Linked DNA regions of Homo sapiens: all the other regions are linked to region 2. Evidence: fine-mapped expression QTL. A gene starts in region 2. Each other region holds a variant in brackets. All regions are shown on one strand. Distances are between the middles of the regions.

Region 1 (10,480 bases), 48 kb before region 2:
GGGTTAGGTGGGAGAATCGCTTGAGCCCAGGAAATCAAGGCTGCGGTGAGCTGTGATGGTGCCACTGCACTCCAGCCTGGGTGACAGAGGGAGATCGTCTCGAAAAAAATTAATATCTGGAATATACAAAGAGCATATAAAGAACTACTACAAAACAATTAAAAAACAAAACAAAACAAAAAACAGTTCAATAGAAAATGACGAAAATACTTTGAAGAGGAACTTCACAGTAGAGAAAATCCAACTGACCAATAAGAATTTGATTAATTTTATTATTTTTTTAGAGACAGGGTCTTTCTTTTTTTTTTTTTTGAGACGGAGCCTCGCACTGTCGCCTAGGCTGGAGTGCAGTGGCACGATCTCGGCTCGATGCAAACTCTGCCTCCCAAGTTCATGCCATTCTCCTGCCTCAGCCTCCCGAGTAGCTGGGACTACAGGCACCTACCACTACCACGCCTGGCTAATTTTTTGTATTTTTAGTAGAGACGGGGTTTCACCGTGTTAGCCAGGATGGTCTCAATCTCCTGACCTCGTGATCCGCCTGCCTTGGCCTTCCAAAGTGCTGGGATTACAGGCGTGAGCCACCGCACCTGGCTGAGACGGGGTCTTTCTATGTTGCCCAGGCTGGAGTGCAGTGGCTATTCACAGGCGTGATCCCACTACTGATCAGCATGGGAGGTTTGACCTCCTCCCTTTCCACCCTGGGCTGGTTCACTCCACCTTAGGCAACCTGTTGGTCCCCCACTCCTGGGAGGTCACTATATCGATGCTGAACTTAGTGTGGACACCCGATCTGCATAGCGCACTACAGTCCAGGACGGGCCTCAAGCAATCCTCCTGCTTCAGCCTCCCAAGTAGCTGGGACTATAGGCTCACATCACCTCACCTGGCTCAATAAGCATCTGAAAAAATAGCCAATCTCATTAATATGCATGAATATACCAACTACAGTAAAATGTCTAACAACAATATTCAAAGTCAGGGACAGAAGAAATGGAAGTATACTGTTATAAGTTTCCTTTGTAACATCTTTATTGAAGTATAATTCACATGCCATAAAATTCACCCATTTAAAGTGCACAATTCAGTGGCTTTTATTACTCCCCGAGTTCTACAACCACTACATTCTAAGTTTAGAGTATTTCCATCACTCCAAAAAGAAATTCCATGCCCATCAGCCATCACTCCTCATTCCTCCCTCCAGCCCTAGGCAACCATTAATATTGTTTCTGTCTCTATAGATTTGCCTATTCTAGACATTTCATGTAAATAAAATCATACAATATAGGCTGGGCGCTGTGGGTCATGCCTGTAATCCCAGCACTTTGGGAGGCTGAGGTGAGCAGATCACCTGCGGTCAGGAGTTCGAGACCAGGCTGGCCAACATGGTGAAACCCGTCTCTACTAAAAATACAAAAATTAGCTGGGCATAGTGATAGGAGCCTGTACTTCCAGCTACTTGGGAGGCTGAGGCAGGAGAATCGCTTGAACCTGGGAGGCGGACATTACAGTGAGCAGAGACTGTGCCACTGCACTCCAGCCTGGGCAACAAGAACAAAACTCCATCTCAAAAAAAAAAAAAAAAATCATACAATATAGGTTTTTTGGTGGCTGGCTTCTTTCACTAACCATGATATTTTCAAGGTCATCCATGTTGTAGCATGTATCAGTATTTCATTCCTTTTTATTGCTGAATAATATTCCATTGTATGCATATAATACATTTTGTTGGTCCATTCATCAGCTGATGGACTTTTGGGTTGTCTCCACTTTTTGGCTATGGTGAATGATGCTGCTTCAGGGGGTATTCCTGATGGGTCTGAGCCCCTGGTTTCCATATCCATTCAGATCATGGTTTTGCTGCAGTTGCCCATTCAGTTATCATCACTCATGGAGTCAACACGAGGTGACCAGTCAATCCCCTGAGGTCTAGATTTATTCTTTCTGCACCCATTATATAGCAGCAACCCTGTCTCCTCATGATAATCAGGGTTGATTACCCTGCCAGGAGAGTAGCTTCTTTTTATTTTGTCTGCTGATCTACTGGCCCGAGGAGCTCAAAACGATCATAAGGCAGCCATAGCTTCAGTTTTAGTGGAATCCTTACTGAGTGGCCTGGTAGAAGCATTCCCTTCACCTACCCTTGGGAATCAGGATCACCAATCATGATCACTAGTCTACCAAAGTATAAAGTGGCAGGAGGTAAAGCTGGACACCGTGGTGCACACCTGTAGTCCCAGCTACTCCGGAGGCTGAGACAGGAGGATCACTTGAGCCCAGGAGTTCAAGACTGTTTTGTGTGATAATCCTGCTGGTAAATAGCCACTGCAGTTCAGCCTGGGCAACACAGCAAGCAGCTGTCCCTCTCTATTTTTTTTTTTTTAAAAGGCAGGGCTCAGTGGCTCATGCCTATGATCCCAGCACTTTGGGAGGCCAAGGGAGGAGGATTGTTTGATACCAGGAGTTTAAAACCAGCCTGTGCACCATAGTGAGACCTTGTCTCTACAAAATTAAAAAAAAAAAAAAAAAGTAGTGTGGGTGAGAAACATATATTTCCCAGTGGGTTCCTGGGAAGGATGGTGAGGGGGATCACTCCAACTTCTATTCCTAGGTTCCTGGAACCATGTATTCTAGCTATAGCAGACACAGCACCATATAATGACCATTAGTTCCAAGTAGATACTGTAGCTTTTTTTTTTTGAGACAGAATCTTGCTCTGCCACCCAGGCTGGAGTGCAATGGCGCAATCTCAGGTCACTGCAAGCTCTGTCTCCCGGGTGCGGTGGCTCATACCTATAATCCCAGCACTTTGGGAGGCCAAGGCAGGAAGCTCGCTTGAGCCCAGGAGTTCGAGACCAGCCTGGGCAACATAGCAAAACCCTGTCTCTGCACACACACACACACACACACACACACACACACACACACACAATTAGCCAGACACGGTGGTGTGTGCCTGTTGTCCCAGCTAGTTGGGAGGCTGAGGTGGGAGGATCATCTGAGCCCAGGGAGGTCAAGGCTGCAGTGAACCATGATCACTCCATTGCACTCCTGGGCAACAGAGCGAGGTCCTGTCTCAAAAATAAATAAATAAATAAAAATAAAAAGAAGCTGAAGGACATCTACTGACCAGGCTATCTTGTCCGCCCGGTTGCTTAGTACCCCTTCTGCAAAGGATGCTCACCGTGGGGTACCAATAGAGACATAGTGCAAACTTTGTGCTCACTCCAGCAAATCCATCCATTTGTCCTCCCCTCACAAAAACCCGTCTCAGATCTTCCAGCCTTGCTCCTTCTAGGTCTCTGACCTATCAGACAAGACTCTGGCCTCTACCTAGTAATCTGTGTATATCCTTAGCTCAAAGCCCTTTTCCTTCCACCTTATGTTGCTGACCAGGTGCTAATGTCAGCAGCTCTGTCATCAAGGGGGTTTCCCCTCACCACTGCCTTTCAGGGCCACCCTTGACTGTGGCTGTGATGTGGCTGAAGTTCATTTTCAGTCCACACCAACCTAGGAAGCCATTTTATCTGTAAATTAGATCTGGGGCTTTTTTTCCTCCTCTGTCAACTGGTGATAAAGAACTCCCCATGAGGCCAAAGGTGTGAGTTGAGGGAGAGACATAGCTGCAACAGGGATACGTGCCCTGGGGGTCTGGCTGCCTGTTCATGTAACTTACTTGTGCGCTTTAGGCTGAGTAGTCCTCATCTGGAATGCACCATTTCCATGGTAGGATGGATTATTGCTGCACCTGCTCAACTGTGTCACTTGGTGTATCTGACAGTTCCCGCTTCGCAATGGGCAGCTCTGATCACATCACCATACCTGTCCAATGGTCAGGTCTCTGCAGCACAACCGAAGACTTCTTTTTTTGAGACAGAGACTTGTTCTCTTACCCAGGCTGGAGTGCAGTGGCACAATCTCGGCTCACTGCAACCTCCACTTCCTGGGTTCACGCCATTCTCGTGCCTCAGCCTCCCGAGTAGCTGGGACTACAAGCGTGCACCACCACACCTGACTAATTTTTGTATTTTTAGTAGACAGGGTTTCACCATGTTGGCCAGGCTGGTCTCGAACTCCTGACCTCAGGTGATCCCTTGACCTCCCAAAGTGCTGGCATTACAGGTGTGAGCCGATGCACCCGGCCAGAAGATTATTTTTTAAAACCGGAACAGTCCTCTGCTGTAGATGGCATGGCCTTGCTCCAGAACCTTCTGGGCTTGCCAGAGACTCCCCAAAGCATCCTATGAATCATAGATAGATGGCATCTGCTAGGCTATATGAGCCCAAGTGGCAGGGAACTTTGCATTTTGGCCTGGACTGAAAAAAACCTCTCTTGTTGTGGGCCCCACTCAAAACCAGCAGCCTTCGGAGTTCCCTGAAAATTAGTTGGAGCAGTATTTCCAAGTGTGGCATGTGCCATCTCCCATATCTGAAGGGGCTTGCCAGGCTTTGTGCATCTTTCCTAGGGATAGGAGACACATGGTGGTGCCAGTTCACTGGACTCTGACAAATTTTGCAAAGATCCTTGAGTCTTTGTAGGATTTATCCTCCAACCTCTGGCAAGCACGTGCCTTGCCACTTTCTGTTCACCAGGTTCCATTAGCTCAATGTCGTCGGTACAATGGATTGTGTGATGTTGTGTGGAATGCCAAGATGATCAAGGTTTCTGCTCTATTATGACAGAAAGCAGGACAGTTAACATAGCCCTGGGGTAAGACTGTGGATGTGGACTTTTGTCTGTCCTCAGGGAAAGGAATCGGCTTTTTTTTTTGAGACTGAGTCTCGCTATGTTGCCCCCGCTAGAGTACAGTGGCTCGATCTCGGCTCACTGCAACCTCCCTCTCCCGGGTTCAAGTGATTCTCGTGCCTCAGTCTCCTGAGTAGCTGGGATTACAGGTACCCACCACCACGTCTGGCTAATTCCTGTATTTTTAGTAGAGACAGGGTTTCACCATCTTGGTCAGGCTGGTCTCAAACTCCTGACTTCAAGTGATCTGCCTGCCTTGGCCTCCCAAAGTGCTGGTATTACAGGCGTGAGCCACCGAGCCTGGCAGGAATCTGCTTCTAATCTTACTTCCTTCAACAAATTAACAGTCATGGACTAAATGGCAGGGACTCTGTTGATCTGTTCTAAGAAAGCTAACACATCTGGCACAGCACTCAATCAGGGCGCCACTTGGTTATGTGCACCCTCATCTACAATGATCCATCTGGTTTTTGCAAGAGCCAGATTGATGAATTAAATGGGGATATCCTGGGAACCACCACTTTTATATCCTTTGTGAGTGACTCCAACCACTGCCATTCCACCTGGGCTGGGGCATTGCTTCTGATTAACTCTCTTGGGAGGGAGATGAGGAAGCAATTTCTAATTGGCCTTTCCTACCCTAATGACTCTTATTTCATTCTTTTTTTTTTTGGAGATGGTTTCATTATGTCACACAGGGTGGAGTGCAGTGGTACAATCTCAGCTCACTGCAATCTTGACCTCCCTGGCTTAACCAATCCTCCCACCTCAGTGTCCTGAGTAGCTGGGACTACAGGAGTGTGCCACGATACCCAGCTAATTTAAAAAAATTTTTTTGTAGAGATGAGGTTTCACTATTTTGCCCAGGCTGCTCTCAAACTCCTGGGCTCAAGTGATCCTCCCACCTTGGCCTCCACACTTGGGATTACAGGTGTGGTAATGGCTCTTATTTCAGGAAACCAACGCGAGAGATCTGCTATCTACTAAGTACCTCTATTCCACTATGTATTCAGGGGCCAGGGAAATAACCATCAAGCAGACTGATGGGCCAGATCTCCTTTCATCACCTGGCCTCCATATGCCCCACACTAATACATGCCCATGATGGCATTTTGGTTCCTTAATATTAGTGTCAGTTCCAACTCTGTATCCAAAAGCCTTGAAAGATCTGAGTATTTCCCTTTCCCCAGGATGCAGTTGCTCTGATAAGCAGCTGTAAGTACCTTTGGGGGAAGAATAGGATAATTACCATGATATAAACTTGCCATGGCATTGTAGGATTCTTCCTGAAGGGAACTGGCCCCCACTTCAATGAAAGGGCTCTATATTTGGCCACGTTTGGTGGCTCACATGTGTAATCCCAGCACTTTGGGAGGCCGAGGTGGCACATCACTTGAGGTGAGGAGTTCGAGACCAGCCTGGCCAACATGGTGAAACCCCGTCTCTACTAAAAATACAAAAAATTAGCTAGGTGTGGTGGCGAGCACCTGTAATCCCAGCTACTTGGGAGGCTGAGGCAGGAGAACCGCTTGAACCTGGGAGGTGGAGGTTACAGTGAGCCAAGATTGCACCACTGCACTCCAGCCTGGGTGACAGAGCAAGACTCCATCTCAAAAAAAAAAAAAAAAAAAAAAAAGACAAAGGGCTCTATATCTGAAAACTGGTTTGGGCCTGGAAACTGGGTATGGGATGGGGATTTTCCTTTGCAGTGGCTAACTTCAGCCTTCTGCTGTCTCATTCTTGCTTGTTTTTATAAGCAAGAGATACCCTCCTTCACCATCCTCCTATCTGGGAACACCATGGTCTCTTGGTCATCACAATAGATCCCTGCTTACATTTCTGGTCTTTCTGCCTATTA[C/T]GGTAATTATGTCCACTTAGCCTCTCATGACCACGTGCTGTCGCCTGACCTCGTTCTGGACTCCTGTTATACCCACTGACTCTAGAAAGGCTAGTCCCATAGCAGCTCCCGCTACCATTGCTCTGGCCTGCTGAGGACAGCTACCACTGACCTGCAAATGCCAGTGGCCCTGTTCCAACTAGCACCTTTTGTATCACTTTATTTATTGAGTATTTCTGGGCCCTCATGAAGAACACAGTAGGCTGGAGGGTTCTATAGTCTTATATAATAGTCATTTTATTCTGGCATGCCCACTTTTCTGAGCCTTTATTCTTCCAAGTATTCTGTCAAGGAAGTTCCAACATCTCTACCTCATTTGCTGGAACTCATAGTTTTTCCACACTTTGAAGATCTATCCCGGGGGCATATTGCAACAGGCTTCTGGTGTCCTTGCCAAGCTTTAAAATGTTAAATCCCAGGCCAGGCGTGATGGCTCACTCCTGTAATCTCAGCACTTTGGGAGGCCAAGGCAGATGGATCACTTGAGGTCATGAGTTTGAGACCAGACTGGTCAACATGGTGAAAACCCGTCTCTACTAAAAATACAAAAATTAGCCCGGTATGGTGGTGTGCACCTGTAATCCCAGCTACTCGGGAGGCTGAGGCAGGAGAATTGCTTGAACTCAGGAGGCGGAGGTTGCAGTGAGCCTAGATCGCACCATTGCACTCCAGCCTGGGTTACAGAGCAAGACTCATCTCAAAATAAATAATAAATAAATAAATAAATAAATAAATAAATAAATAATAAATAAAATAAAATAAAATGTTAAATCCTTACCAGGTAGGGCATTCCATATCAATAAACGTACCCTTATTCAGCATTTTTTTTTTTTTTCTGAGACGGAGTCTTACTCTGTTACCCAGGCTGGAGTGCAGTGGTGCGATCTAGACTCACTGCCAACCTCCACTGCCCGGGTTCAAGGGACTTTTGTGCCTCAGCCTCCTGAGTAGCTGGGAGTACAGGCACACGCCACCAGGCCCAGCTAATTTTTTTGTATTTTTAGTAGAGATGGGGTTTCACCATGTTGGCCATGCTGTTCTCGAATTCCTGACCTCAGGTGATCCTCCCGCCTCAGTCTCCCAAAGTGCTGGGATTACAGGAATGAGCCACCCGACCCGGCCTTACTCAGCCTTATATTCCACCCCCTGACCCCAGTCTAACACCCTCAAGATATGTTCCCAAACATGTTCTGCCAAATTCTTCTGGTAAATGTTCACCAGCTCCTGCAGGTCTTTTGGTGAATCATCCTTTTCTTTCCATAGATGGGACAGTGCTTCCCCACTTGGTCCCTGATGAGACTTGACCATTGTTATTGGTCTAGAGTCATGGAGGGGAGTCAACATCAGGCTTTGAAGAGGGCAAGTATCATCTTGTGAGGCGTCTGCCTCAGGTGAGGAATCTGCATGTTATCTAGGCAAGGGGAGGCTGCTCTCTTCCACCCAGGGGGAGAGGCCAATTCTGCCAGCCCAAATAACTCAGCATAATAAGGGGGTTTTAGAACAGATGTTCCCATACCAGGCCTCAGGATCCCACTCCTTCCCTCCCAGGGCCCTGACCTGCTGGGGCTTTAAATATAAAACCCTGCTACTCTTGCAATCAGATTATAGGACTGATTTTCATCACAGTCTGCCCTGCACAGGAGGTGAGGGTTTCCTTACATGCTGCCATAGAGGTCTTCTGGTTTTTGTTTTGTTTTAAGATAGGGTCTTGCTCTGTCGCCCAGGCTGGAATGCAATGGCACAATCATGGCTCACTGCAGCCTCAACCTCCTGGGCTCAAGTGATCCTCCCACCTCAGCCTTCTGAATAGCTGGGAACACAGGTGCTCACCACCATACCCAGATAATTTATTTTTTGTAGAGACAGGGTATTCCTATGTTGCTGGGGCTTGTCTCGAACTCCTGGGCTCAAGTGATCCTCCCAAAGTGCTGGGATTACAGGTGTGAGCCCGGCTTCTTCTAGCTTTTAACTATATCATAAATTGATAGCTGGCTGATGTGAGTCTGTCTTTTATTCTTTTAACCCTTTGATGGCATTAACAGCAACCAAACAACTCCTTTTTTTTTTTTTTTTGATGACAGAGTGAGACTCTGTCATCCAGGCAGGAGTGCAGTGGCGCAATCTCAGCTCACTGCAGCCTCTGCCTTGTGGCTTCAAGTGATTCTCGTGCCTCAGCTTCCCTAGTAGCTGAGATTACAGGTGCCTGCCACCACACCCAGCTAATTTTTGTATTTTTAGTAGAGACAGGGTTTGCCATGTTGGCCAGGCTGGTCACGAACTCCTGACCTCAAGTCATTCACCCGCCTTGGCCTCCCAAACTGCTGGGATTACAGGCATGAACCACTGAGCCCAGTCTCCACAGTCCTTATAATTACCATTTTCCTCTTACACCTCAAATACTAGAGCTATTGCATAGGCAGTGCATCCCTGTCTGCATCCCATTTCACCAGGGTGACAGTCTGACGATCAGTCCAGTTCTCCAGTGGGTATTAGTACCCCACTTACCTCAGCAATGGAATCTTTGGGCCATCTGGATGATGAGTGATCCAAAACCAGAATCTTATCCTGGGGGTCTACTTCCTAGGACAACTTTGGATATCAAATGTGTTGGTTTGGGTTCCCTCCAGAAGTAGAACCTGAGTCAAGGATTCAAAGGAAAGTATTTATTTGAGAAACACAAGTGTTTATTTGAAAAGCGATGCTAGGAATACCAAGCAAGCCAGTGGGAGACTGACATTGGAAAGAAAGGAGGCTCATAAAGGGTGTGTTATCAAGCAAGTTAAAAACATGGACAACCGGCCGGGTGCGGTGGCTCACACCTGTAATCCCAGCACTTTGGGAGGCCAAGGCAGGTGGATCACCTGAGGTCGGGAGTTCGAGACCAGCCTAACCGACATAGAGAAACCCCGTTTCTACTAAAAATACAAAATTAGCCGAGCGTGGTGGCACATGGCTATAATCCCAGCTACTTGGGAGGCTGAGGCAGGGGAATTGCTTGAACCCAGGAGGCGGAGGTTGCAGTGAGCCAAGATTGCACCATTGCACTCCAGCCTGGGCAACAAGAGTGAGACTCTGTCTCAAAAACAAACAAAACAACAACAACAAAACAAACAAACAAACAAACAAAACACGTGGACAACCAGAGCTTAATCCTAAGAAGGAACTCAGGGAGCCAGTCATAATGTTTGCTGCAGGACCTGAGGGATGAGGAAGCTGGCTATTTACGCACCGATCCCCATCGGTGATTGGCTGAAGGTTGCTGTGGCTGGGAGTATAATTCCCCAGAACTTTCAGCCTGCTCAGCAGGCTCCAGTGGCCAGAGAGAGTCCTTAGATAAAGAGCTGCAGGTTCTGGCAGCTGGAAGTTCATCCAGTGAACCCAAGAGCTTCAGGAACATGGGAGGGCACTGCCAGCATCTGCCACACTAAGGGAGGAATCCTTTCACGAGGAGATACTGCAATGGTTCCACTACCTGGAAGATAAGGCTCTCACCTGAGCTCAGGGCAAAAAAGGGGTTACCTTCTGGGATGACTGATCCCAAATGCCAAGGGTAAGCTGGGTTCTAACTCCAAAAGAAAGGCAGGGAGGACTATGTCTGGAACCCAGGGGACTCCCTGGTGTGCCATGTCCTATTTCCGTGTCCAATAGTAAAAGTTAAAAAAAAAAGAGCAATACAGTTCTGAGGATTCCAATTTGTAGAATGCTAATTTCAAGAATAAAGGTTTATTCTTGAAACCTTTATTTTAAGAATAAAGGTTTGGGGGCCGGGCGTGGTGGCTCATGCCTGTAATCCCAGCATTTTGGGAGGCCAAGATGGGCGGATCACCAGGTCAGGG
Region 2 (10,480 bases):
TTTATTATACTGAAACAGTCTGTGCCTTCAATCTCTTGCCTCGGCACCTGGGTAATCCTCCGCCCACAGTGACAAGAGTGAAACTCTGTCTTAAAAAAAAAAATTAAGAATTTCAAGATAGGACAGCAGAGCTTTAAATTTTTTTTTTTTCCTAGAGGCAGAGTCTTGCTCTCTTGCCCAGGCTGGGGTGCATTGTTGCAATCACATATCACTGCAGCCTTGAGCTCCCGGGCTCAAGTGGTCATCCTGCTTTGGCCTCCCAAAGTCCTGGGATTACAGGCGTGAGCCACTGCACCCGGCCTGTAGAGCTTTAAACAAAGCACAGGCTGCTTCTGAGCACAGGGCCCTCGTCACATGGCTATGAAGCCAGCCCTGCCTGGACCCAGAACCCTGGTGTGGGCACTTTATAGCTTATAAGCCCTCCAGTCAAGAGGCCTCAGCCTGAGCCTCCCTGAGCCTCAGTTTCCTCTCCTGTAATCTGTGAAAGCACTGAGCACTAATCTCCCTTCCGGGCTAGCTTTCTGCAATAGCTTAAAGCTCCCATCCCAAGATCTCTCCAAGAATCCTCTTACCAAGTCCCTGCTCCCAGCCTGGCTCCCTGGTCCCCATCCCTCTCCCCTCTCACACCCTTTCAAAGCCCAGAAAGGACAGGTGACCGAGTGACTGTCTCTGGGCTCATACAGTGGGGTGGTCTCCTGTGACAGGCTAGGGCTTCAGGGTATGGCTTAGCCTATCCCTCACACTTCCTTGGGGCCTCTTGGGGCAGACAGCCCAGGCGGGGCCCAGCAGGCACACTAGTCAGGTGCCTGATGATGAGGGCAGGCGCCTGGAACTGGGTCAACAATCGCTCACACGGAGGTGACTCAAGCAGCAAGGGGAAAAAGAGGTGGGGGTGGGGAGGTGGCTGTTTCTGTGCCCTCACTTGAGCCTCAGCTTTTAGGGTTGCCAGATTTATTTTTATTTTTATTTTTGAGAGTCTCACTCTGTCTCCCAGGCTGGAGTGCAGTGGCGCAATCTTGGCTCACTGCAACCTCTGCCTCCCAGGTTCAAGCAATTCTCGTGCCTCAGCCTCCCAAGTAGCTGGGATTACAGATGTGCACCACCACCCCTGGCTAATTTTTGTATTTTTAGTAGAGATGGGGTTTCACCATGTTGGCCAGTCTGGTTTTGAACTCCTAACCTCAGGTGATCCACCCACCTCAGCCTCCCAAAGTGCTGGGATTATAGGCGTGAGCCACCATTCCTGGCAGCCTGAAAATTTTTTAATTTTTTTTTAATTTTTTTTTTTTTTTAGTGATGGGGTCTCCATATGTTGCCCAGGCTGGTCTCAAACTCCTAGGCTCAAGTGATCCTTTCACCTTGGCCTTGGCCTCCTAAAGTGCTGGGATTACAGGCGTGACCCACTGTGCCTGCCTGCTGGTATGTAACTTGTTGTTTTTTTTTTTTTTTTAGACAAAGTCTCACTTGCCCTGGCTCAAGTGCAGTGGTGCCATCTTGGCTCACTGCAGTCTCCGCCTCCCAGGTTCAAGTGATTCTCCTCCCTCAGCCTCCTGAGTAGCTGGGATTACAGGCATGTGCCACCATGCCCAGCTAATTTTTGTATTTTTAGTAGAGACAGGGTTTCACCATGCTGGCCAGGCTGGTCTTGAACTCCTAACCTTGAGTGATCTACCCACCTCTGCCTCCCAAAGTGCTGGATTACAGGCCAATAGGCCTGGCCCCCTGTAACTTTTTTTTTTTTTTTTAATTTTTGAGACAGAGTCTTGCTCTGTCGCCCAGGCTGGAGTGCAGTGGTGCCATCTCGGCTCACTGCAAGCTCCGCCTCCCTGGTTCACGCCATTCTCCTGCCTCAGCCTCCCGAGTAGCTGGGACTACAGGCGCCTACCACCACGCCTGGCTAATTTTTTGGATTTTTAGTAGAGATGGAGTTTCACCGTGTTAGCCAGGATGGTCTCCATTTCCTGACCTTGTGATCCACCCGCCTCAGCCTCCCAAAGTGCTGGGATTACAGGCGTGAGCCACCACGCCCGGCCCCTGTAACTTCTTAAGCGAAGGAAAATAAAAAAAAAAAAAAAGCAGAAGCCACAAAGGAAAAGATTGACCAATATATTTCAGATGACATAACAACAACACAAAAGACAAATGACAGATTGGGAGGAAGCATCTGAAACATACAAAATACCCAGAATATATAAACAGCTCCTACAGTTCAACAAGAAAGAAAATACTGCAAAAACAATCAGCAAATAATACTGTGATGGTAGAACAATGTATCTACTTGGATGGTGCTCCTGGATTAGATTAACATTTAAATCAGTGAACTTTGGTTAAAGCAAATTGCTCTCCATTGTAGGGAGACCCCCTGAAACTATTGCTACGGAATAAAAGATGAAATGCTCCTGATTATTGTAAATACGAAATTGCATGCAGGATTGTGTAAAGACAATGCCAGGTTGGACTGCCAGTATAAGCCAACAGCTCGTGATGTGCTTCCCCCTGAAGAGAGCCTATGAACAGACGTGCAGTCAGGGAGGTTTCACATCACCAATATTCCTATCCCAGAAAAGCAGATGTTCATAGCCCTGGGAATGGAATGTGACCCTTGTGGAGGGCCTATAAATGGACGCATGAGCGGCACCTGTTCATATGGATAAGATAGGGCTATAAATGCCCTCATCTTGCCATGGCTCTTCTAGGCCTCTTTAAGGTTAAGGCATACTCCCTTCTGATAATTTCTGGTCTAACTGGTTATCTAGCTTCACGTCCTGTTTCTATGGATTGTTTGTAACCAGCTTTTGCTGCAACTCTTACTGCTGATTAATATCTTGCTAATCATAGGTTATGGAAAGACTGTGTTTCTGTTTTAAGGCTCTGTTAGAAATTACTGATGCACACACTATATTGTAAATTCTTATCTCTGTATACTGTACTTCTGCATACAGATGTTATGTTAAAGAATTACTTCATCCCCATGTGACCATCTCACCTCATAATCAAACGACCCTAAATCCCTCACTAACCTACCCTCGCCCTCACTAAACTTAATAATAAATGCTGGTATATCCAGTGCATTGGCAGCATCGCAGGACCAGAAGGCGGTGACCCCCTTGGACCCAGCTTTCACTATCTTGTGTGTGTCTATTATTTCCCGACCTGCCGATCCACCTGGGGACAAAGAGAGAGCCCCATTGCCTTGTGGGCTGCTGGCCAGATCCCGCGATACTCCATAATGTGGATGGACCTGAATAAAACAGAAAGACGGGCCTCGCCGAACTAGAGGGAATTCTCCTGCAGGCTACCCTCAGACTTAACCATCAGCTCTCCTGGGTCGCCAGCCCACCAGCTCACACTAAAGGCTTAGGATGGTTATGATAAGAAAGACAGATGATAACAGAAGTTAACCATGGATGAGGCTAAAGAGAAATTGAAACCCTCATACATCGCTGGTGGGAATGTAAAATAGTGCAGCTGCTTTGGAAAACAGGCTGGTAGTTACACAAAAGGCTAAACAGAATTATTATGTAATCCACTAATTCTACTCCTAGGTATATACCCAAGAGAAATGAAAACATGTCCACACAAAAACTTGTATGGGCCGGGCGTGGTGGCTCACTCCTGTAATCCCAGCCCTTTGGGAGGCTGAAGTGGGAGGATCCCTGGAGTTCAGGAGTTTGAGACTAGCTGACCAACATGGCAAGACCCTGTCTCTACAAAAACCACACAAAAATTAGCTGGACATGGTGATAAGCACCTGTAGTCCCAGCTACTTGGGAGGCGGAGGTGGGAGGATTACTTGAGCCCAGGAGGCAGAGGTTGCAGTGAGCAGAGATGACACCACTGCACTCCAACCTGGGTAACAGAGCAATACCCTGTCTCAAAAAAAAAAAAAAAAATGCTGGGGGGATGATGAAGATAGGCACAGTGGCTCAAGCCTGTAATCTGTAATCTCAGCATTTTGGGAGGCTGAGGCAGCAGGATCACTTGAGGCCAGGAGCTTGAGACCAGACTAGGCAACATATTAAGACAAAAAAATACAAAATATAGCTGGGAGTGGTGGCATGTGTCTGTATTCCCAGCTACTCAGGAGGCTGAGGTGGGAGGGTCTGAGGCTGCAGTACAAGGTGGCACCACTGTAATCCAGCTTGGGCGGCAGAGGAAGGCTCTGTCTCAAAAACAAAGAAACAAACAAAAATGGGCCACGCGTGGTGGCTCACGCCTGTAATCCCAGCAGTCTGGGAGATTGAGGTGGGTGGATCACTTGAGGTCAGGAGTTCGAGACCAGCCTGGTCAACATGGCGGAACCCTGTCTCTACTAAAATACAAAAATTAGCTGGGCATCATGGCACATGCTTGTAATCCCAGCTATCCGGGAGGCTGAGACAGGAGAATTGCTTGAACCCAGGAGGCAGAGGTTGCAGTGAGCCAAGATCGTGCCACTGCACTCCAGCTTGAGTGTTGGAGTGAGACTCTGTCTCAAACAAATGAAAAGAAACAAACAAAAAAGAAATGAGATACTGATACCTGCTATGTGATAAGCTTTGAAAACATTATGCTAAGTGAAAGAAGCCAGTTGCAGATCACATATTATAAAATTTCATTTATATGGAATATCCAAATCTATAGAGGTAGAAAGTAGATCAGTGGTTGCCTAGGGTTAGGGAGGGTGACTGCTAAAGGACATAAGGCTGCCTTCTGTGGTGATAAAAATGGTCTTAAACTGATTGTAATGATGCTGCATAACTCTCTTAAGACACTAAAAACCATTGAGTTGTACACTTTAATTTTTTTGTGTTGGCGGGGGTGGATGGAGTCTCGCTCTGTTGTCCAGGCTGGAATGCAGTGGCACGATCTCGGTTTACTGCAACCTCTGCATCCCGGGTTCAAGCGATTCTCCTGCCTCGGCCTCCTGAGTAGGGAATTACAGACCTCGTTATCGTGGCACCTTACCCTTCTGATGTTAAAAAAAAAAAAAAAAAGAGCGAGAGAGAGAGAGAGAAACATTTGTGAAGTAGGTTGTTGAGTCTCAGCACTATTGACCTTTTGGGCAGGATACTTCTTTGTTGTGGGGGATTGTTCTGTGTGTCGTGTGATGTTTAGTGGGATTGCTGGCCCTTACCTACCAGATGCCAGTGTCCCTCCACCCTGAGTTGTGACAACCCAGATTGTCTCCAGACACTCCTAAATGTCCCTGGCCGGCAAAATTGCCGCTGCTCAAGAATCACGGCTTTGACGATTAGACTTTGTGATATTTGTTTCAGTCTGTTTAGGTTTTTTTTCTTCTACCTGTATTTTTTTCTGGTTCTGGGTGGTTGTAATTAGTAGGTTATTGATCGATTCACCTAACATTTCATGAAAGTTTCATGTGTGTGTGTGTTTCAATAGAAGCATAAACTATACTCCCTAGTCTCAAGATACACAGGAAGGAAAATAAGCACAAATGTGTCACCAGGGCACAGACTAGTACTAGGTCCTCAGCAGGCCAGGTGTCTTATCCGCTGTCTGGGTCTGCTCTAGCTCCAGGCTTAGAACCCCTGCCACACGACTCCACAGCTCGGTTGGCACCCTTTCCCTCCTCCGACTTCTGCTGCCTCGAGCTTGGTTAGCCATCCCCCTGCCCCTGCCTCATCCTCAGCTCCAGTTCCTTGCTCAGGCTGCAGCAGTCTCCATCCCCTGTGCAGACACTGCCGTTCCTCCACGGCCCAGTATCAGGCTTTCCCTGGGCCTCTCCTCTCTCCTGGCCCATCTCCCATCATCCATCTCTGCCTGGCCCAGGCCCTTTGGCACCAAGCAGGCTGACTCTTGTCACTGGCTAATCTGTTCTGTGGTACATTTTCTCTCCTCACCCTCCCATATCAATTCCTCGAAGGCAGGGCCGATCTGGAGACTAGGAAGCCACTTCTCTTTCGACAGCCCCCACCACAGCCCAGCCCGTGCCAGGCACCCAGCAGCTCCTGAAGCCCACTGGCATTGAACATGGCATTCAATCCCTGCCAAGCCTGCCCTTCCCATCTGGTTTCCCAGGGCTCTTCCCAACACCTCCTCCTCCACCTGCCAGTTAAAATCTTCCCAGACTCAGCTCAAGGAGATGCTCCTAAGGTGGAATGAAATCTCTTCTTCCCCACCTGGAGACAATCTACTTCCTCTCCCTACACCTGGCAACTGGCGCACAACCTTGTATCTTAAATTAGATTCAGCCTGAGACTGTCTCCCACCAATCCCTGCTCCCTGTCCTGCTGAGCACCTTGAGGAAAGGGCTTTGGGGCTGTTTATCTTTGTCCTGGAAACCATCCTTCAACTCACTCTGGGGCCTGCCTAGCATGTCAACCGAGTTTGGAGAATAGGGCAGAATAGGGCAGGACAGGACAGGACAAGACAGGGCAGGATAGGATAGGAGCGAGCCAGCTCAGTAGCTCACATTTGTAATCCCAGCGCCTTGGGGGGCTGCGGTAGGAGAATCGCTTTGGGAGCAGGAGTTGCAGGCCGCAGTGAGCTATGATCAGCTTGGGCGACTGAGCGAGACCCTGTCTCTAAAACAAACACACAAGTCCGGGCGCGGTGGCTCATGCCTGTAATCTTAGCACTTTGGGAGGCCGAGGTGGGCGGATCACGAGGTCAAGAAATCGAGACCATCCTGGCCAACATGGTGAAACCCCGTCTCTACTAAAAATACAAAAATTAGCTGGGCGTGGTGGTGCGCGCCTGTAGTCCCAGCTACTCGGGAGGCTGAGGCAGGAGAATCGCTTGAACCCGGGAGGCAGAGGTTGCAGTGAGCCGAGATCGTGCCACTGCACTCCAGCCTGGCGACAGAGTGAGACTCCGTCTCAGAACAAACAAACAAAAGGATAGAAAGGCGAGCACAAATATTCCCAATTCATAACACTCCCTCGCACTGTCAATGCCCCAGACACGCGCTATCATCTCTAGCAAACTCCCCCAGGCGCCTGCAGGATGGGTTAAGGAAGGCGACGAGCACCAGCTGCCCTGCTGAGGCTGTCCCGACGTCACATGATTCTCCAATCACATGATCCCTAGAAATGGGGTGTGGGGCGAGAGGAAGCAGGGAGGAGAGTGATTTGAGTAGAAAAGAAACACAGCATTCCAGGCTGGCCCCACCTCTATATTGATAAGTAGCCAATGGGAGCGGGTAGCCCTGATCCCTGGCCAATGGAAACTGAGGTAGGCGGGTCATCGCGCTGGGGTCTGTAGTCTGAGCGCTACCCGGTTGCTGCTGCCCAAGGACCGCGGAGTCGGACGCAGGTAGGAGAGCGGCCGCGCAGACCTCTCGCCTGCTCCTGCCCAGGGGCCCGCCAGGGCCATGTGAGCTTGAGGTTCCCCTGGAGTCTCAGCCGGAGACAACAGAAGAACCGCTTACTGAAACTCCTTGGGGGTTCTGATACACTAGGGGGAGTTTTATGGGAAAGAGGAAGCAGTAATTGCAGTGACGCCCCGTTAGAAGGGGCTTTCTACCTCCCCAGCATTCCCCCAAAGCAGGGACCACACCATTCTTGACCCAGCTCCACCCCTGTCGGTAGGTGCTGGCTTCTTCCCCTCTCCTGGTGGTGGTGGGTGGTTCCCGCGGCGGCCTGGAGCCGGAGGGGCGCGCGACCCTGGGCTGGGAGCTCCGAGGGCCTGGGAACGAGACCTGAGACCTTGGCTTCTCGAAGGTAGTAGGGACTTGGGAGTGGTGACTGAACCTGGTCTGGCTCCTCCTTACTTCCTCTTGTTGCGGGTGGGACGAGCTAGCTTCCGCCTCTCCCAGCCACTTTTTCCTGCTCATTTGCAGCTAGGTTGGCTCCCCTTTTGGGAATTTCCTCTCCCCTTGGCACTCGGAGTTGGGGGGTGCCACCTAGTGGAAGATAACGGAGCTAGGGTCTTGAAGAGGCTGCTGTCCCCTCTGGCTGTTTTGGCGGTGTAGGGTGGCATGAGAGACTGCGACTCGCCTCCTCATCCCTGTTTCTGTATGCGAGTGCTTGTATTCAGTAGAAGCATACACTATACTCCCTCAATTTAGGGTAAACAGGAGGGGCCACATGCACAGGTAATTCACCAGGGAGCCGAACACTCCTGTGCAGACAGACTCCCCTTCCCAGCAAGCCATGGCAGCGGACAGCCTGCTGAGAACACCCAGGAAGCAGGCGGTGCCAGCTGCAGGTGCTTTGCCTGGGAGCTGTGGGGCTGAGGAGAGGGTCCACTGTCCAGGACCAGTGAACTTCATCCTTATCTGTCCAGGAGGTGGCCTCTTGGGGATGCTGAGTTAGGGGAGGGGCACTTGAGGAAAGCCAGGTGGAGCAGAGAGGATGTGAGTGACTGGGTGGGTGAGATTTCCTGCCCCTCCCCCCGCAGTGGTATCCACACCTAGACTCGTGGGGTAACTGAGGCACAGACAGAGAGCAACTTCTCAGGCCCTCACAGTTGGCAATTCTAGGATTAGGACCCAAGTGCGATTTTCAGGCAGTCCCTGTACCCTGTTTCTGTTGTACCTGTTGCACCATTCCCAGGCACTGCCCATCGTGCCACTAGTGATATGAACCCAGGTCCAATACGCTCTGGGGCCATCAAAGCCTGACGTCACCATGACCTGATGTGTGACGTGTTATAGGTGTCCCTTGGTATCTTCACGGAACTGGTTCCAGGACCCCAAAATCTGTGGGTGCTCAAGCCCCTGAGATAAAATGGTGTAATATTTGCATATAACCTATACATACTTTAAATCATTTCTAGATTACTTATACCTAATACAATGGAAATGACATGTCGGCTGGGCGTGGTGGCTCATGCCTGTAATCCCACCACTTTGGGAGGCCGTGGCAGGTGGATCACCTGAGGTCTGGAGTTTGAGACCAGCCTGACCAACATGGTGAAACCCCCATCTCTACTAAAAATACAAAAATTAGCCAGGTGTGGTAGCGCACACCTATAATCCCACCTACTTGGGAGGCTGAGGCAGGAGAATTGCTTGAACCTGGGAGGCGGAGTTCGCAGTAAGCTGAGATCGCGCCACTGTACTACAGCCTGGGTGACAGAGCAGGACTCCATCTCAAAAAAAAAAGAGAAAAAGAAAAAGAAATGCCATGTAAATAGTTGTGATCCTGAATTGTTTAGGGAATAATAAGAAAGAACTATCTGTAGATGTTCAGTATAGATGCACCCATCGTAAGCCTAACTACATTGTATAACTCAGCAACGATGTAACATTTTCAGGGGTTTTTTTGTTTTGTTTTTTGAGACAGAATCTCAGTCTCACTCTGTCACCCAGGCTGGAGTATGTTGGCGTGATCTCTGCTCACTGCAACCTCCACCTCCTGGGCTCAAGCGATTCTCCTGCCTCAGCCTCTTGAGTAGCTGGGATTGCAGGTGTGCGCTACCACGCATGGCTAATTTTTGTATTTTTAATAGAGATGGGGTTTTACCACGTTGGTCAGGCTGGTCTTGAACTCCTGACCTTGGGATCCGCCCACCTGGGCCTCCCAAAGTGCTGGGATTACAGGCGTTAGCCACCGCGCCCAATATATTTTGATCCCTGGTTGGATATGGAGGGCTGACTGTACTTAACATCTCTAAGCTTCAGTTTCCTCCTTTAAAATAAAGGTGTGGCTGGGTGTGGTGGTTCAAGCCTGTAATCCCAGCACTTAGGGAGGCTGAGGTGGGTGGATCAGCTGAGGTCAGGAGTTCAAGACCAGCCTGACCAATATGGTGAAACCCCCTCTCTGCTAAAAATACAAAAATTAGCCAGGCGTGGTGGCGAGCGCCTGTAGTCCCAGCTACTTGCTTGAACTTGGGAGGCAGAGGTTGCAGTGAGCTGAGATCGTGCCACTGAACTCGAGCATGGGCAACAGAGCAAGACTGTCTCAAAAAAAAAAAAAAAAAGGGGGTGAGCAGACGTGGTGGCACGCTCCCACAGTCCCAGCTACTTAGTAGGAGGCCAAGGTTGGAGGATTGCTTGATCCCAGGAGTCTGAGTCCAGCCTGGGCAACATGGCAATACCTCATCTCTAAAAATAAAATAAAAGTAAAGGTATTAATTACTACTTTGGATGGTTGTTGCAAAGAAATATATATAAAATAATGGAGAGTCTTGTAACTGGCTCCCAAGAGGCTCAACAGACATTACTGTTTTTGCTTCTTCATTATGAGTTACCTCTCTGGCCACCCCACTGAACTAGCTGGGCTAGCTGAGCCTGGGAGAAGAGTTGTTTAGGAAGTGAGAGGCTGCTCTCCACAGAGACTCAAGGCTCAGTTCCTCCTGGTGACTCAGATGGGCAGCCCAGTGGGCACACGTGGTCTCTCTCCACATGTGGCTGAGTTTCACTTCCAGAATAGATGGAGAGGCAAGGGCAGGGTTTAGCATGCTTGAGGAATCTCAGAGGGCCCTGGTGGTGTGGGGGACCCTCAGAACACAGGTGTCTCAAGGGCTGACCCAGCTTCTGTGTCCTTTTCTCTGGGTGAGGAGGGGACATTCATGGGCAGATGGTGACCTCTGG
Region 3 (10,480 bases), 19 kb before region 2:
CACTGCAAACTCCGCTTCCCAGGTTCAAGGGATTCTCCTGCCTCAGCCTCCCGAGTAGCTGGGACTACAGGCGCCCACCAGCATGCCCAGCTAATTTTTGTATTCTTAGTAGAGACGAGGTTTCACCGTGTTGGCTAGGATGGTCTCAATCTCCTGCCCTTGTGATCCACCTGCCTCGGCCTCCCAAAGTGCTGGGATTACAGGCGTGAGCCACCGTGCCCAGCCCCTACCACCCCCAATTCTAACCCTAACATGGGGGGGAGGTCCCCAAAGGGACCTCACCACCAGAATGTCTACTTGTGGTCCCTTACACTCTAGGTCCTCACCCCGACTCTCGCCAAACTGGAGAGGTCCTCTTCATAGGTGCCACTCTGGGCAGCCAAACCAGCACCAGGGTCCCTCCCAAGCCTCCCTCCCAGCCACCCCAGGCCCCAGAGGGACAGGCACCAGGCAGAAGTTCATCATCTTTAGACTTAAGGAATTAACAAGGGTCAGGGAGACTACACCAGGCTGAGGGCTTCTTGGTTCCTGGAGACATGCCCAGCTACAGCAAACACAGGGAAACACGAAGGGGGCAGCTGGAAGATTTGGTCTTGAACTTGGGGGGTGGGTAAGTGATGATCCCCACGACTGGAGCAGCAGGAAGAAGTTGTGTCTGAGGAAGTGCTGGGCCGCCCAGAGGGACAGCCCTGCCCTGGAGCTTGTCGCCGGGAGGGAAGGGAAACAAGCCCCCTCCCTCAGTGCTGAGGAAAAGGCACTTGGCTGGGTCTCCTCCTGCCCTCTCCCCATCCGTGGGAGAGACGGGGTCCTTGCCTCCTTGCCCCTTTCAGCCGCCCAGAAGCCGGTCCTGGTTCAGCCTCTGGAAGAAGCTTTTGCCGAACTCATAGGTGCTGATCATGATGGCACAGGAGGGGGCAGCCTTGATGATCCGAGGAAGGAAGCCTGCAGTGGAAAGGAGGCCCGTGTCAGGGGTCAGGTCGCAGGTCCGCCATGCCCCCACCCCCGACACCCACACACTGACCTGCAAAGAGTCCCTTGGTGCCCGACTCGGCCCGGATCCTCCGCAGCAGCAGCCAGGTGGAGTCCACATGCAGGGGGTTCACTGCAAACGCGAGGCCGGCTCAGTGAGACCCCATTCAGGACCCCACCTGTCCCCTGCCACGGCAATCTGGGCCCTCACCTCTCACAGCCTCCATCGCTCCCAGAGCGACCTGGCGTTGGGTCTTTACCACGTCAAAGGGTAGAGTCAGCACTGCAGCCACCTGGTGGGGTGGGCGGGGAGAGGGCTCAGCTCCACTTCCTGGACCCCCACCCCTACCTCCCAGATGGCTCTTGCGGCTGGGAGGGACAAAGGCCTCATGGGGTCTGCTTCTGGGCATCTCCAAAAATCCTCAGGCCCCCCGCAGGGAGACCTCCGCTGGCCTCACCTCCAGCCCAGTCCACTCACCGTCCCTGAGATGCCACCAGCCACAAAGCTCATGCCCACAGAAGTCTGGTCCTTCGGCCTGAACCCATTGAGCCAGCTCTTCACCAGCTCATAGTTGAACCAGTACAGGGCTTGGGGTGGGGGATGCACTGATTAGAGACGGGAAGGGCAAGGAAGTGGCCCCAGACCGTCCACCTTTCACTGCCACCACTCCCTCCCAGCTGTGAGTCTTGTCTGCTACATGCAGGCTCAGAAGCAGGCACTCTGTAGGAATTAATCTCCTGACCGCCTGGGCAAATACTCTACCTGCTAGGCCCACTTCACAGATGAGAAACCCATGGCTCAGAAAAGCTAAGTAACTTCATGGTCACTAGTCACAAAGCTGGGACTTGGCTGTAGACCCTTTGTGCATCACCCCAGGGTTCCCTCACCCACCCCCTGCAGCTTGGGTGCCTACCTGAGAAGGGCACATCTCGAAGGGCAGTGGGGCCCCAGCCCAGCCACAGTGAGCGCCAGCCACCCTGAGCCACTGCAGTTCGAACACAGGCACCCAGCTCCCGGTACGACACATGCTGAGCCTGCAGCTTTGTCCGCATAAGCTCCAGGGGGCTGATCACAGTCACGGTGCCCACTGTGTGGGGATTGGGGGTGACAATGGGGAGAAGTGAGATCACAGGTCTTACATGGCATCACCTACCTGCTGTCCCAGGTCTGGGGACCTAGAACACCCCCCTATCCCTAGGCTGGCAGAGGTTGGGGCTGGGAGCTGGGACTGACTGGGTTTGGGCCGAGGTGGGGACAGAGGGAGGTCAAAGGCCCAAGACTATGCTCACGGCGGGCCAGCGCGCCAGCCACCATGGGTGCGTAGAGGTCAGAGGTCAGGGCTCGACCACACAGGAAGGCCTTCAGTTGGTCATAGGCAGTGAAGTAGATGGCGGTAGCTGGCACAGTCATCACCCTGGGGATACAGAGAGAGGTTAGCTGGGACTCCCAAAAGGACCCAAACTTTTAAAGCATCACCTGCCCCACCTAGCCATTCAACAGGGAGCAAAGGGTCAGGAAGTACCAGAGGAGAGTGGTGCAGGACCCGGCTACTCACAGGGTGGCGGGGAGGCCGCTCCAGAGGGTCCTGGTGCCCTCGTGCCTCACGATCTTCACGAAGGCATCCTGGCCAAGCAGGCACCAGCCCAGGGGAAGAGGAGGGACACAAGTGATGTCTGTGATGGGGCTGGCCCAGGCTAGGCCTTTGCCTGACGCCCTCAGCCTCTGCCCACAGCCCTCAGGCCTCCCTGCCTCTACACATGCAGTACCCCAGCAGCTGGGTCCAGGCGGACACCTGGTCACCCTTCAAAAACCTTATGGAGGCCAGGCACGGTGGCTCACATATGTAATCCCAGCCAGCACTTTGGGAGGCCAAGGCGGATAAATCACTTGAGGCAGGAGTTCGAGACCAGCCTGGCCAACACGGCAAAACCCTGTCTCTACTAAAAATACAAAAATTAGCGGCAGGTGGTGGTGCACGCTTGTAATCCCAGCTACTTCGGAGGCTGAGACAGGAGAACCACTTGAACCCAGGAGACAGAGGTTGCAGTGAGCTGAGATCACACCACCGCACTCCAGCCTGGGTGACAGAGCGAGACTCTGTCTAAAAGAAAACAAACACCCCATGGAGGTACTGCCTTCTCCGGAAGCACTTCCTGACGGAACCGGCTACCTCTGCGTGCCTTGCCCAATCCCTTTACTCCTGGGTCTGCTGCCCAGCCAGACCGAACTCCTCACGGACACCGACGAATCCCTACGGACCCAGCTGCTCCTCACCATGGTGCCAGTGAAGCGGGTAGGGTCTTGAAACCAGGTGGCACAGCGGGCACCATTTGGGCACAGGTACAGAGGCTCCAGGACACCATTGCAATACAGGAGGCACTTCCCTGTGGATTGGAGAGAGGAGGGCACTGGGGAAAGGCAGGGGGCATTATAATGACAGGATCCTAGAACCTTGCAGGGAGGCAGTGGGCCCCTATCCCTGGAAGGCCAGTAAAGGCCAGGTCCCTGTGTGGATGTTCTGGTGCAGGTCACAGGACTGGCTGGCAGGACCTGGGAGTATATGCTAGTCCATGGCTGTGGAGCCCACTGGTGCCCTGGGGACAGGGACAAGGACTGTCTCCCCCTTGCACCCTCCCATGCTCCCTGTGGCTTGGGGCACTCACATTTGGTATAGGAGAGGCTCCACAGTCTGGAGGAAGGCATCAGCTCTAAAATACAAGGCAGCCCCTCAAGTCAGGAGAGCCCCCACCCGCCCTAGGGACCCCATCTCTGGGAGATCTTTTTATTTTATTTTTTGAGATGGAGTCTTGCTCTGTCGCCCACCCTGGAGCATAGTGGCACAATCTCAGCTCACTGCAACCTCCACCTTCCCGGTTCAAGCGATTCTCCTGCCTCAGCCTCCCAGGTAGCTGGGACTACAGGCGCATGCCACCAAGCCCGGCTAATTTTTGTAGTTTTAGTAGTGAGAGAGTTTCACCACGTTGGCCAGGCTGGCCTTGAACTCCTGATCTCAGGTGATCCACCCACCTCAGCCTCCCAAAGCGCTGGGATTACAGGTATGAGAAACCACGGCCAGCCTCTGGGAGATCTTTCTTTTGCCCAGGCACCACCCCTCACTAGTTCCAGGTCAGGTACTCACCGCTGGCCATGGAGGGCCGCTGAGACTGCAGGCGAACCTTCACCACGTCCAGGGGTGTCACTGGGGGAGGAAGCGGGTCTGAAGGCTCCTTTCAGGACCCCACCCCTAGGACTCCTCCCCCAGGACCACACAGCCTCCAATCTCCGGTCTGCCCCATCCCCACCCGCCCCCACCCCACCTCCCCTAGGTCTTACTGAAGAGAGAGGTAACCACAGCCCCGGTGCCTGAGGCCACCATTTGCTGGAGGGGGCTGATGCCCGCAGGGTCCTGGTCAGCCATCTTGAAGCTTCAGTCCTGAAAACCAAACCTCAAACAGACCACAACTCCAGGGATGGCAGGAAAGGAGGCTGGGCCACTGTGAGACTTTTGTTTTGAGACGGCGTCTCGCTCTGCGCACTGTTGCCAGGCTGGAGTGCAGTGGCACCATCTTGGCTCACTGCAACATCCACCCCCGTTCAAGCGGTTCTCTTGCTTCAGCCTCCCAAGTAGCTGGGACTACAGGCGCGCACCACCACGCCTAGTTAATTTTTGCATTTTTAGTAGAGACAGGGTTTCACCATGTTGGCCAAGATGATCTCGATCTCCTGACCTCGTGATCCGCCCGCCTCAGCCTCCCAAAGCACTGGGATTACAGGCGTGAGCCACCGCACCCGGCCCACTGTGAGACTTTAACCCAACCCTCATCCACCGCCCTCGAAACATCTGTTGCCTCAACAACCCTGGCAATGACCTCTAAAGCAGGGACTGTCCGCCCCCCTCCGCCGGGGAAAACTAAGGCTCGGGGAGACGAGGTGGCCTGCCCAAGGTCACTCAGGAGTGGTTCCGAAGGAAGCTAGGGTGCCAGACCTATCGCTCGAATGCAGTAGGAGCCAGGGTCCTTCCCTCGTCCACCTCGCACGTGTCCACTGCGCACCTCCTACGTGCAGGCGCGGATTTGGCCCTCGTGGCCCCAAAATCAGAGTACCTGTGCTGCCCCCACAGCCCCCACTCCAGCACCAAGGCCCCGGGCAGGCACCTGAGAGCCCAAGTTACTGGGCGTGGAGGGACGGCCGGGCATCGAGGGTGACGTGTAAACAGATCCGGTGACCAAGAAGGGCCCGTCGCCTCCTCAGGACTGCGGGCTGGGATGCCCGGCCCTCCCCGCCCGGCCGGACGGGCCAGACCCGGGGCCCGGAGAGAAAGAGCAGTCTCTGGGTTCCCGCCCCAAAATGCAGGCCCGGGGCGCAGCCGGGAGAGCGGGAAGTAGGAACGTAGGACCAGGACGTCTCCCCGACCCTCGGCGACACTCCCGGCCCCGAACGGCGGAGAGCCGCCAGGTGAGGGGGACCACGCCAGCTCGACGGCCCCAGCACCTGCCCTGGCTCGCACGGCCGCCCGGAGACCCCCGCTTCCGTCTCCGCCCCCAGCCCCGGCCCAGTGCCGCCTACCTGGCTCTAGGCTGGTGCTCGTGCGGCGCGGCGCCCAGGG[T/C]CAGGCGGGCCCATACCGGCTCCGCCGCCTGTGCGCGGTCCGCGCGCGCTCGCAGCGCACCTAGGCCGACGCCGAAAGCAGCCAAGGGGGCCCCGCCCCTACACCGCGCCACGAGGCCCCGCCCGCCGCGGGCCGACCAGCCGCAAGCCCGGAGTGTCCCCGGCTCCGCCCACTCGCGTCTCCGCCCGGACCTGCGACGGTCCCGCCCCCTTGACGGGGCCGCGCGGGCGAGTTCCATGCCTGTCCAGCGCTGAGAGCTGCCGGCCAACTTCGCGGTCTCCACGTCGCGCTTAACGTGGCAGCAGCACGCACTTCCAGCATCTTTTTTTAGACAGCATCTTTTTCAGCCTCGCTCTGTCGCCGAGGCTGGAGGGCAGTGGCGCGATCTAGGCTCACTGCAGCCTTGACCTCCCGGGTTCAAGCGATCCTCCTGCCTCAGCCTCCGGAGTAGCTGGGACCACAGGCGCGCGCCGCCACGCCCGGCTGGTTTGTTACTTTTATTTTTGTCTCCCTATTTTGCCCAGGCTAGTCTGGAACTCCTGGGCTCAAGCGATCCGCCCACCTCGGTCTTCGAAAGTGCTGGGATTCCAGGCGTGAGCCGCCGCGCCGGCCTTAACAGCGCATTTTCACCAGCCCCGCCCCGGCCGCGCGCGGCACTGGAAACCCCAGCGCCTTCTGGACGGCGAGGGTGACGCACTGGCCCTCTTCCTCGGTGTCCTCAGGTGCGTGGCGGCGGCAGTGAGAATGAGTTCTTCGAGATCGCCGGGAGACCACACAATAACGACGAAGTTACTTGCCGGGCTACCCGCCGAGACTTGAAAACTTCGCGGCGACTTCTCTCGCCGGCCTTAGCATCGCCCCCATTTTTCAGGTTACAGGACAGGCCTGCAACTGCAAAACGCTTTGTAAACCACAGGGCCCCGCGCGGGTGTGCGCCACTGGGTTAGCTGAGCTGCAGCCCGGGCCGGGCGGGCTGGGACGTGAGCAAGCCGGGGGAGACGGGAGAGCCATGGGGAGCCAGATCCCACCTTCGCGTGACCTTGGGCAAATCACAACCTCGCCTAAGGCCCGGAATGACTCTGCGCGGAGAGGAAGAGCACTGAGTGCGGGAGGGCATCGACGTTTTGGTGTTGGTTGCTCTCGTATCGTGATTTCTTCTGAGTCTCAAAACTCTTTGCAGTAGGTTATTGTTGAAATAGATTACCACAGGCCGGGCGCGGTGGCTCACGCCTGTAATCCAGCACTTTAGGAGGCCGAGGCGGGCGGATCACTTGAAGTCAGGAGTTCGAGACCAGCCTGGCCAACATGGTGAAACCCCGTCTCTACTAAAAATACAAAAGTAGCCGGGCATGATGGCTGGCGCCTGTAATCCCAGCTACTCGGGAGGCTGAGGCAGGAGAATCGCTTGAACCCGGCCGGCGGAGGTTGCAGTGAGCCGAGATCGCACCACTGCATTCCAGCCTGGGCAACAGAGTAACACTCCGTCTCAAAAAAAAAGGCCGGGCGCAGTGGCTTACGCCTGTAATCCCAGCCTTTTTGGAGGCCGAGGCGGGCGGATCACCAGAGGTCAGGAGTTCGAGAGCAGCCTGACCAACATGGTGAAACCTCGTCTCTACTAAAAATACAAAAAATTAGCCGGGCGTGGTGGCGCATGCCAGTAATCCCAGCCACTCGAGAGGCTGAGGCAGGAGAATCGCTTAAACCCGGAAGGCGGAGGTTGCGGTGAGCCGAGACTGCGCCATTGCACTCCAGCCTGGGCAACAAGAGCGAAACTCCGTCTGAAAAAGAAATAGATTACCCCGTTTTACAGAAAGTGAAACTGAGGCTCGACGTGAAGAGCCGGAGATTCGAACCGGCCGGGTGCTTTTCCCAGGGCTCCACACTGCCTCCCCGGGAGACAGGAAGGCTTAAGTCCAGCGCTGCCCTCTCCGATCCCGCTTGTCAGGGAGACACTTTATTTCCCGGGGCAGCCCCGTACCCCAGGCCCCACCACCCACTTCGCGTTTAGAACTTCTGTGCTATCTTGCTTATTTGTCCTAACAGAGAAACCAGCACGCGCGGGCGGTGGCGGAGGGGGGCGGGCGGGCGGGTGGAGGCGGGGGGGGGCGGGCGGGGAGATGGGTACTCCTAGCCTGCGCCTTTAAGAAGGGTAGGCCTCGACTTTGACGTCTCTGCCTTCCCCGCCCTTCAGGCCCCCACTGGTCGCGTCCGGCGCTGGAGGAGCCCAGTCAGCCGGCGCCTGCCGGGTTAGCACGTGGACTCCGAGGGGCCAACTATCAGCTTTCCCTGACAAAATGCCTTTGAGCTCCCCCACAGCTCTGAAACTCCAGCTTGGGAGCAGGGAGAGTGCAATCTGTGACCTGTAAAGGGGCGCTGGGCAAAAGGGCCCGAGAGAAGGCGTCCTTTCCATTCCCTTCCCATCTCAAGCTGAGTTCAGAAATGACACGAAATAATTTAATCAACTATCAGTCAAGGTCGGGCTCACGCCTGTAATCCCAGCAGTTTGGGAGGCCGAGGTGGGCGGATCACCTGAGGACAGGAGTTCGAGACCAGCCTGACCAACATGACGAAGCCCCGTCTCTACTAAAAATACAAAAATTAGCCAGCGGTGGTGGTGCGCACCTGTAGTCTCAGCTACTTGGGAGGCTGAGGCCAGAGAATCGCTTGAGCCCGCGAGGTCGAGGCTGCAGTGAGCCGAGATCACACCACTGCACTCCAACCTGGATGACAGAGGGAGACTCTGTCTCAAAAAATAATAAATAAATAAATAAATAAATAAACTATCGGTCAAGGTGAAAGCCTACTCTCCGCCAAGGTTCTTTACAACTTAGACGTTTTGGTTTACGGAACAGGGGAGGAAACTGAGGGCTCTTGTGTGTAGTGACTTTACTCGTGTGGAGGAGAACCCAGACTTTCCCTGCACACACTCTCCCGTTTTATGGATGAGAAAAGGGGGGCCCCAAAGGTCAAATCGCCCCAAGGTCACTCAAATGAAAGAGTCAGCATTAGACCCCCCAACGTGCCTGAGCCAGATGGGCTCCCACCCTGTCCAGTTCTCAACCCAGGTGCTGTGTTCCAGCAGCACCCTGACCTGGCTTTCCATCTCACCTGCCTCTTACAAGCAAGTGTCTTAAGGCCTCTAAGCCTTAGTTTCCCCATTTACAAAATGGGCTGATGGTGATGATAACGCACCTTCCTCTAGGGATTATGTAAGGATTTAATGCATTAATGGCTGTGACGTGCTTAGAACCCTGGCAAGTGGCAAGCATTCTATGACAACTACTACTATTGCTGTTACTGTATTGTTGTTAATTGCTCTCTAGAACCTGTGGCATGGAAAGTTCCCCAGATTCTGGCCCCACCTCTGCCTCCAGTATGCAGTGATGGATAATAATAACTTCTTATACCCAGAACGAAGGTCACCAGTGCAAAGTAGCACAGCCAGGAATCAAACCTGGGGACCTCTGAGCCTGTTTCCCCAACAGTACATTGAGGGCCTTGCACTCCATTTCTGGTTTTCTTTTTGTGATGCTCTTAAATAGGATCCTTAGAGATTTGTGGATACACCTGTTTCCTCATCTGAAAATAAGGACGATATCACCTGCTCTGCCTAACGTACAGATTCTTAATATCATGTCTCTGAAAGCTACATGAAGAGTCAATAAACAGTTCTGTGAGACCTGCCAGGGGCCCAGAGCCGCGTGGATCACAGTCCTTACCTTCTCCAGAATGTAAATGCTTTGAAGCTTAGAGAACCATGAGGCCTCATGGGTGTGACCAAAGCAGTGGCCGCTGGAGAGGTTATCCATGGGTGATGGGACACCTCGGGACCTCGTGAAGTCTCTCCCAAGAATGACCGTGGCAGTTCAGGGTGGAGGAGGAGCTTTGACATGCTCCAGAAGCTATGGAGCCCTGACTCAACACGCCCACCCTCGAGGAGCAAGCCTGGAAGGCTGCAGAGGTGGCCACTGGCCTGGCTGACTCAGGCAAGGTTTACATTGGTTATGCACCCAGTGGTCCTTCCAGAGGCAACATGTGGCCCCATGTGGCCATCTGCAGCTTCCTCGCACAGATGGAAAAGCAGAAACTCTCCCTTTTTAACTGTAAAAGGGGAGAAGAAAGTACCAGCTGCAGGGGTGGTTGTGGAGACTGAAGGACCAGTCCTCACCTGATACCCAAGGGGCCAGTTTATTACAAGGCTGAATTTGTCCAAGGCAAGCCCTGGGACAGGGGCAGTGTCCCCTCCAGCTTGAACCCCCAGGGCCTAGGAAGACATCTCTGGGGCTGATGGAGGACTCAAGGGCTTCACCCATGGATGGGACCCCACCAGCACCTCTGAGTCCAGGGCCAGCACTGTCTGCATCTAGAGTAGTCTCCCAAAGCAGGGCCCAGGGCTGCAGAACCACTGAGGCCCCCTACTGCCCAGAGGAAAAGTCCAAATCCCAGGCCCATAGCAAATGTAGTCTGATCTTTTTTTTTTTTTTTTTTTTTTTTTTGAGACGGAGTCTCGCTCTGTCGCCCAGGCTGGACTGCAGACTGCAGTGGCGCAATCTCGGCTCACTGCAAGCTCCGCTTCCCGGGTTCACGCCATTCTCCTGCCTCAGCCTCCCGAGTAGCTGGGACTACAGGCGCCCGCCACCGCGCCCGGCTAATTTTTTGTATTTTTAGTAGAGACGGGGTTTCACCTTGTTAGCCAGGATGGTCTCGATCTCCTGACCTCATGATCCACCTGCCTCGGCCTCCCAAAGTGCTGGAATTACAGGCGTGAGCCACCGCGCCCGGCCTGTAGTCTGATCTTTAATGGATTCTGAGGGTGGAAAGGAGTAGGGGAGTGATGGAGGACTTTATTGGAACAAGTGGAGAAAAGGGAATAAGGTCTGTATGCTAATTACTCTTTTTTTTTT

The links.
Region 1: its variant is fine-mapped to the expression of GRN in whole blood (TOPMed, PIP above 0.99).
Region 3: its variant is fine-mapped to the expression of GRN in whole blood (INTERVAL, PIP 0.95).

The regions. Positions count from the first base shown.
Region 1 is chr17:44,290,261-44,300,740 of GRCh38, forward strand. RUNDC3A-AS1 (RUNDC3A antisense RNA 1) reads right to left here. Exons shown (of 4, transcript NR_110802.1): 4 at 9,314-10,480. It also overlaps the pseudogene RN7SL507P. Among named protein-coding and RNA genes, the nearest start is that of RUNDC3A-AS1, 13 kb to the right of the region's middle. The variant C/T (reference allele first, on the strand shown) is at 6,606.
Region 2 is chr17:44,338,078-44,348,557 of GRCh38, forward strand. It overlaps GRN (granulin precursor), which reads left to right and starts at 7,225. Exons shown (of 13, transcript NM_002087.4): 1 at 7,225-7,257. RefSeq lists enhancers at 5,271-6,196, 7,348-7,497.
Region 3 is chr17:44,319,175-44,329,654 of GRCh38, forward strand. SLC25A39 (solute carrier family 25 member 39) reads right to left here and starts at 5,649. Exons shown (of 12, transcript NM_001143780.3): 1 at 5,537-5,649; 2 at 4,304-4,403; 3 at 4,110-4,169; 4 at 3,634-3,678; 5 at 3,245-3,378; 6 at 2,526-2,593; 7 at 2,260-2,384; 8 at 1,884-2,057; 9 at 1,448-1,557; 10 at 1,181-1,262; 11 at 1,022-1,102; 12 at 454-942. The coding sequence starts at 4,388. The coding sequence ends at 827. LOC124904009 (a long non-coding RNA gene) reads left to right here and starts at 6,279. Exons shown (of 2, transcript XR_007065768.1): 1 at 6,279-6,447; 2 at 7,768-8,374. RefSeq lists silencers at 5,192-5,411, 5,432-5,861, enhancers at 5,962-6,151, 6,312-6,391, 6,442-6,501, 6,572-7,423, 6,682-6,731 and 1 more and a cis regulatory region at 7,396-8,073. The variant T/C (reference allele first, on the strand shown) is at 5,577.